2 separate regions of the Homo sapiens genome follow, and region 2 is reported to be linked to region 1. The links are microRNA targets in miRTarBase. Many come from high-throughput screens and were not tested one by one. Region 1 holds a microRNA gene; the other region holds the end of a gene's coding sequence.

Region 1 (4,000 bases):
GTCCCAAAGTGCTGGGATTACAGGCATGAGCCACCTCGCCCAGCCTGTATTATTTTTTTTTTTCCTCAGCAGTCAGATGCCCTGTATTACATTCTTGCCGCCACTCCATTTTTACAGCACACAATAAAGAAGACTTGATCATACTTAATTTGCCTAAGCATTTGAAAAAAAAATTAATTCTCGGATAAGTTTTTGTAAGTTCGTAAATATAAGAATGCAAGTCTAAAATCCACAGGAAAAATATATTTCTGCTTTGCTAAAATGTCTGCTAAAAATAAAAAACCAAACTAAGTAAGCAGAAATAAATTAAGAAATGGGAAGGAGTCTTGAAAAATCAATCTTCCCAGAGTCGATATTATTAACCACCTCAGAAATAAGCAGCGCAGGGAAAAGTATGTGGCTCCTCAAGGCACTTGGGTCTCTTATGGCTTAGAAGTCCTCTGAATACATACATCAAGGTTTCCCAAAAATATGTCAACGAAAACCCACATAACTATTTTTGTTTGTTTCTTTCTTTCTTTCTTTTTTTTTTTTTTTTTTTTGAGACGGAGTCTTGCTCTGTCACACAGGCTGGAGTGCAGCTTGCTCACTGCAACCTCTGCCTCCCAGGTTCAAGCGATTCTCCTGCCTCAGTCTCCCGGGTAGCTGGGACTACAGGCATGCGCCACCACGCCCGGCTAATATTTTATTTTTAGTAGAGATAGGGTTTCACCATGCTGACCTCAGGTGATCCCACCTCCTCGGCCTCCCAAAGTGCTGGGATTACAGGCATGAGCGACCATGCCCAGTGAAAGCCCACATAACTATTTATCTTCATTTTAATTCTCTTGCTTCAGGGTTAGTGTTAAAAAATTTGAGGTTAGCATATAGGAAGGAAGTCCTCTTACTGGATCAATGCCAAAAGGGTATGGTCCACCAAACACTCCAGGGAGGGCTGGGTTCAGCTGTAGAACAGGGTTCCCCCGAAGCGTCTCTTCACTACCATGACAGGGAAAAAGTCACATTATTTTTGAACAAGAGAGGGAAACAACAAGGGTCCAGAAACTGACCCCAAAATAAATTACTGTAGCTATCTTGTCTCTTCAATAAAATGGGAGGGGAAAAATAAAGAGGAGAGACTAGCAGCTGAGACTGAGGGATCCAAAATGACAAAAAGAAAAATTAAACACACAAACACACAATCAAGTAGGGAACTGGGGAATCTGGTTTTAGTTTCCAAAAAAAAAAAAAATCATTTCTAATCTTAGTTCCTGGATACTTGCTGAACAAATCACAAAGCAACTCACAGTGTGGAGCATGAATGAGGAGACACTGTCACCACTTCCTAAAGAAGTGTCAGTTTACCACTTGTCTTAAAAATCAGGGCTGCACATGAAAGGAATAAGCTTTGAATTTTAGCTTCTTCTGCAACTTACGTCCAATTATAAGTAAACATCGGCCGTACACTCCAGGATGACCCAAAGATATTAAGAGACTTGGAAAAGCAATCATTGTAGATGAGGCCAGTGTACATGGAGAACACACCCATCAATAAAATAATGTATCGACCACTGAACACAGTGCTAAACATCTGGGAACCAGAAGAAAGAAGTAATGAGAATGTACTCACTGCAGCTCACATTGTGACAATGTTATTCAGAATATACCTGCCCCTTTCTCCAGCACTACTTTACCCCATCCTGATTCAGAGAGCTTGAAGTAAAAACCAAAATACAATGCTAATGAGACAGTCACTTTCACAGGATGTGGCCTCTATTTTTTTATTAGGTTGGCACAAAAGTTACTGCGGTTTTGGCCATTTCTTTTGGCAGCCAAAACCGCAATAACTTTTGCACCAAACCTAAATAATTTTTATTTTTTTAGAGATGGGGTCTCACTATGTTGCCTATGCTGGTCTCGAATTCCTGGGCTCAAGTGATTCTCCTGCCTCAGCCTCCAAGTAGCTGGGACTACAGGCACACACTACCACTTCCAGCTTGCACATGTCGTCTTTGGTGTTAAAATGAACATAACTTCTCTACTTCCTTTTGATAAATTCATGGATAAAAGACTTCCAGATCATAATTTTCATAATGAATGCTTGGGAAATTATAAAATTTCAGTTCAATGCAGATGTAACTTAAACATTACCTCATTCTCATTCTTCTGGGAAAGGATCCGGCTCTCCCTCAGTACCATCCACACAGCAAAAAGGGTCATTAAAATGCCATGACCGAAGTCTCCAAACATCACAGCAAATAGAAAAGGGAACGTGATAATAGTATACGGAGCTATGAAGAAACCAAAAAAAGAAAAATACAAAGTACATTAAACCATAGCAATTCCACAAATATTACATTCTTTTCCATACCCACCCCCCTTTTTTTTTTTGAGATGGAGTCTTGCTCTGTCAGCCAGCAATGTCTCAATCTTGGCTCACTGCAACCTCCATCTCCCAGGTTCAAGTGATTCTCCTGCCTCAGCCTCTTGAGTAGCTGGGATTACAGGTGCCCACCACCATGCCTAGCTAAGTTTTGTATTTTTAGTAGAGACAGGGTTTCACCATGTTGCCCAGGCTGGTCTCCGACTCTGACCTCAAGTGATCCACCTGCCTCGGCCTCCCAAAGTGCTGGCATTACAGGCGTGAGCCACCGTGCCCAGGCTTCCATAATCTTAAGATCAATATAAGGTGACTTACTCCCCAGCTGCCAGACAGATAGGACTCTCAGAGAAAATCTTTCATGGCAGAATCAACACATCTTCACAAAGTAGCTAATGAAATTTGAGCTACTGATAACTTTTTTTAAAAGAGAGATGGGGTCTTTCTCTGCCACCCAGGCTGGAGTGCAGTGGTTTCATCACAGCTCACTGCAGCCTGCAACCCCTGGACTCAAGTTATCCTCCCACCTCAGCCTCCCAAACAGTTGGAACTACAAGTATGTGCCACCATGCCCAGTTAATTTTGTTTTAAAATTACTGATAAATAATATTTTTTTAGATGGAATCTCACTATTTTGCCCAAGCTAGTCCTGAACTTGTGGCCTTGAGCAATCCTCCCACCTCAGCCTCCTGAATATCCGAGATTACAGGCATGAGGCACTGTGCCTGGCAGCTCTGATAACATTTCAAACAAAGAACAGTGGAAATGAAGGTGTAACCTTGACAACATTGGTTTGTTCTCTGACTCTCTTGTAACTCGTGGGACCCTGCTCCCAGGGCAGGCCAGCTGTCTTCTCTTTGTGCAGCAACCATGTCCCAGTGATATAAAGCTAAATATCAGATAACGTACAGATGGAGAGAGCCCAGAGCAAAGCAGTTCTTCCATAGGGCTCCAACTGAAAATGAATACTCACACTCTTGATTTAATAATTAACTCTCCAAATATAGGAGAAATCTGTGTTGTACCTAAAGTGGCCAATACTTGCTACATTTTTTCTGTCTAACCTTGGAACAGGGAAGCCAAAAAAAAAGCCATTTAAAAATATCAGACATCTTAGAAGAAACATTTTGCTTAAAACAGTTCCTGCAAATGATTTGCTAGAGAAGTCCAGGTGTTTTAGGGCTGTGAGGGCACATGAAAGAATCCAGTCTCATGAACTTTTTTTTTGAGACAGAGTCTTGCTCTGTCACTCAGGCTGGAGTGCAGTGGCACAATTTAGGCTCACTATAACTTCTGTCTCTTGGGTTCAAGCAATTCTCCTGTCTAGGCCTCCTGAGTAGCTGGGATTACAGGCATGCACCACCAGGCCTGGCTAATTTTCTTGTATTTTTAGTAGAGATAGGGTTTCACCATGTTGGCCAGGCTGGTCTCGAACTCCTGACCTTAAGTGATCCTTCCACCTTGTCCCCACAAAGTGCTGGGATTACAGGCATGAACCACCACGCCCAGCCGATGAACTTTTTTTTTTTTTTTTTTTTGAGACAGAGTTTCACTCTTTTTGCCCAGGCTGGAGTGCAATAATGCAATATCGGCTCACGGCAACCTCCGTCTCCCCGGTTCAAGTGATTCTCCTGCCTCAGC
Region 2 (4,000 bases), not on the chromosome of region 1:
CTCACGCTGTCCATGGCGGTGGCCGCCGAGTTCCGCGACTCGCTGGGCGACTTCATAGAACACTACGCGCAGCTGGGCCCTAGCAGCCCCGAGCAGCTGGCGGCTGGCGCCGAGGAGGGCGGCGGGCCGCGGCGCGCGCTCAAGAGCGAATTCTTGGTGCGTGAGAACCGCAAGTACTACCTGGACCTCAAGGAGAACCAGCGCGGCCGCTTCCTGCGCATCCGCCAAACGGTCAACCGCGGCGGTGGCGGCTTCGGCGCGGGCCCCGGGCCGGGCGGCTTGCAGAGCGGCCAGACCATCGCGCTGCCTGCGCAGGGCCTCATCGAGTTCCGCGACGCGCTGGCGAAGCTCATAGACGACTACGGAGGCGAGGACGACGAGCTGGCAGGCGGCCCGGGAGGCGGCGCCGGGGGCCCAGGGGGCGGCCTGTATGGAGAGCTCCCGGAGGGCACCTCCATCACCGTGGACTCCAAGCGCTTCTTCTTCGATGTGGGCTGCAACAAATACGGGGTGTTTCTGCGAGTGAGCGAGGTGAAGCCGTCCTACCGCAATGCCATCACCGTACCCTTCAAAGCCTGGGGCAAGTTCGGAGGCGCCTTTTGCCGGTATGCGGATGAGATGAAAGAAATCCAGGAACGACAGAGGGATAAGCTTTATGAGCGACGTGGTGGGGGCAGCGGCGGCGGCGAAGAGTCAGAGGGTGAGGAGGTGGATGAGGATTGAAACGGGCAGCTTCCCCTACAGGCCTCCACCCAACCACCATCCCCTTGGCTAGAGAATTCCCTTTCCTGCTCATCCCCAGTGAGCTAGTGGAGAGGGAGCAAGGGAGGCCGCAGAGGGAAAAAACAAAACGTAACACAGTTAAGAGAAATAATCGTAAGAGAACAGTGACGGACAACTTGAGAAAAGCAGTCAAGTTCCAAGGAACTGACAGCAACCTGCAAAGAGGAAAACAGCATCTCCTCACCTGCGTAAAATTGTCTCAGCTTCTGTTGTTTCTCAACTGAGGTTCGTAAACCCATCAGGATAATCCCTGGAGGGAATAGATCCTTGCACATCCAGGGCAAGAAACATGTCCAAGTTACCCAGACCATTGATAACAGTTGCATTTAGGTTGCACCTGGGTAATCTGGCATAAAAGATCTCTCTAGGCCTCACTGTTGCGGTGTCTATCCCTTCACCTCCATTGAAATCAGCATTTTGGATCTAGGTCTTCATGGAATCCTTGAGAAGAGAGGCCTTTACAATTACCCAGTTCTGAGGGTTCAGGTTCACGAAAAGAAATGCAACTTGGGATAATCATGAACAGGTTAAAGATAAGATTTCAAGAAGCCATCTAAGAATACAGAACCAAATTGGATCCATTTTTTTAAAAAAATGGTTTTGCATGGAACCTGGACCAAGGCAAATGTCTTTTCTTCGCAGAATTGTTTTCCAGGATGCCAGTGGATTCAGATAGCAATGCTTGGAGTAGAATCCGTTACTAAAATAGTTTCAAAGTTGACAAAAAATTTTCAAAGATAAAAGCAGTTTTACATTGGGGGTTGCTGAGGTAGGCACAAGAAAAAGTCAGGCATAAAGCACAAGGCAGACTGTTTGAGTGGATTGGTTGCTGCTCACTAAAGTTGTTCCCCTGATCTCTAAATATGGAGGTCATTACCAAGAAATGCTTTGGTATGAATGAGAGCCAGATCTCCACTGTGTGAGCCAGTGAATTATGGCTAATTCGGCTGTTACAGCCACTGGTTGGCTGGATTTTAAACCATAAAACTTGAAGATTACCTACAAAAGTAACAGTGTGGCTATAAGCCTGAGCTTTAATGGATATACATCCTCACAGAAAAGTTGGAAATAACCAAAACTGAAGTCTTAATTTACCTTCAGTTTAATCTGTGGATTTGTTCAAATACTAAAGATCCTCAGGTCCAGAATTCCAGCATCATTTATTCTTTTAAAATTTTTAAGAACTTGATCCATTGTATCAGTACCTCACAATCAGAGTTGGCAAATGATGGATGAGTGATTCAAGCAGTGCACCCGGTGGAAGCTGAAATCCATCTGTGAATGGAACTGAAGTGAACGTGAATATGCTGACTATATCCTGGAAGCATTTTTATACCATCTTGAAATTTCAACAAACTGGCTTTTGCCAGTTAATCCAGCTGTCTTTCAAGAATAAAAGTTGGGGTTTTCAAGGATCGCCTCTTCTATATTTTAAATGGATTTTCAGTAGAAATGATTTTTACTAATCAAGTTAATCCCACCCCATCAAAAGGTATTCCTAGAAATGTCATAGACCTAGGTAACTTTGAATTGAATGGGAGCTAACGTTCTTTCCAAAGTTTTCAGGTATTCTTTGTGTGACACCTTCTCAACCAGGAGGCAAGTAACCCCGCCTCCACAATCTTAGTATTTTTTTTAAACTGCATGCCTGCCCCTTATTTGAGCTGCCTTTTTAATTTATTGCATATCCTTTTTATTATCTTATTTTGGTATTATTCAATCTATACAATCTTTTTGTATTTATTGGGAAATGAGTAATATACAAAAAGGTTTTCATGTATTTGTGGCTGAGAGGGCGGGAAATAATTGTGTACATAAAATTAGGCTTTTTTAAAAAAATAGATTATGATGCAGAATATTGTTGATCTTAGATTAAAAAGTGGAAGAGCCACAAACATTGGTGCCCTTTTCAGACTATTTCTCTACTCTCATCATCCACAGTAGAATTTTTAAACAGATTTTTTTAAAGCTTTTCTTTTAAATTTTTCTCCGTTGCAAAGAATGTTTCCTAAATTGTATGGGAGCAATAGTATTTTTGATGTTTTAATGACATCCGTATACTTGTACTGTATTTTGTACTACAAGGCAGCTGTTTTTCAATAATGTCCTGCTGTATTTACCTACGTGTTTTGAGTGTCTATTTCTTTGCTGCGGAGAACAAATTCCTAAATAGTTTTAGTAAAGGAGCTGAGAAGCTAGCATTAGGTTTGCAGAAACTATTTAAGTTTCAACTCTGAGGCAGCAATGAAAATTTAAGTTGCAGCTATTAGTTGATTGCTGTAACTTTTTCATTTTCAAACCATGTACAATTCTTGTATAGACCAACTTGTTTTCTTGCTTCAGTGGTGGTTCTGTTGCTCAGCTGCAGTGAGCCAGTTCAATTTTGCAAAGGTGCAGTACCTCTCCTTTTTAAGGGGTTGGTTTATTCTTTTTTCTTTTTGTTTGGCTGAATTGCAGTAACTAGCCTTGCCTTTCTATTCTGTAGAAATGACAGGGTCTTCACAATCCTTCACCAGTGGCTACTAAGCTATAATTAGCTGAATAGAAAGAATGTGGAAGTGGTCTGAGGCATATAGAGTATATGCCAAGAACACTACCATATATGGCATCAGCTTTGGTTACCAGAGAAATTTTCTTAGTCATTAGACCATGTAACAGTAATATATCATATGTAAATCTTTAGATATCAATTTGAAAATCCTCCAAAAAAAGGAGCAAAGAATGCATAAGCTATGTGTTGGCAAAAGTAATTTATATTAAAATTTTGACCTGCCTATGTAAGATTAAGTGGTAATGTCATAGTGGTGGGTTTTTAAGTCTTAACCAATCTCTAAGGTTTGTTTCTCCTGCAAGGGATGGTTCATGGCCTCTCTTCCCACTGCAGGAAGATTGCAGAAGGCTGTGGATTAATTGTAGCATTTCACTGATCTTCACTCCAGTCACTAGGGACAATAGAAACCTGCAAAACACAGATTCATTCGTAAATATTATTAATAGCTTATTAAAGGAAATGGTCTTTGTTAATTCCAGTCAGATAATGGCATTGTACAGACATGGGAAACAACCAATTTTTTTGTTTTTCAGTTGTTGCTATGAATGATTTTGAGCCTTTTTTTTTAAGCTTGGCAAACATCCCAGCTAATCAAAATAGTCATATTCCTGAGAAGTAGGAAACTAAAACTTCTTTTCATATAATTGTTAGAAGGTTTGTTTCCCA

The links. The annotated mature microRNA hsa-miR-548at-3p reads CAAAACCGCAGUAACUUUUGU and lies in region 1 at 1,774-1,794, opposite strand. An mRNA with a match to its seed (bases 2 to 7 or 8) in the 3' UTR can be bound and repressed. Matches are read on the target gene's strand: a 7mer-m8 pairs with bases 2 to 8, a 7mer-A1 pairs with bases 2 to 7 and ends in A, and an 8mer does both.
Region 2: the mRNA of PURB is a reported target of hsa-miR-548at-3p. The part of its 3' UTR that is shown has no 7-base or 8-base seed match.

What each region holds. Positions count from the first base shown.
Region 1 is chr17:42,492,604-42,496,603 of GRCh38, reverse strand. MIR548AT (microRNA 548at) reads right to left here and starts at 1,831; the gene lies at 1,774-1,831. ATP6V0A1 (ATPase H+ transporting V0 subunit a1) reads right to left here. Exons shown (of 22, transcript NM_001130021.3): 12 at 2,131-2,270; 13 at 1,416-1,570; 14 at 888-978.
Region 2 is chr7:44,881,133-44,885,132 of GRCh38, reverse strand. PURB (purine rich element binding protein B) reads left to right here. Exons shown (of 1, transcript NM_033224.5): 1 at 1-4,000. The coding sequence ends at 723. MIR4657 (microRNA 4657) reads left to right here and starts at 3,333; the gene lies at 3,333-3,385. RefSeq lists a silencer at 64-113 and an enhancer at 1-531.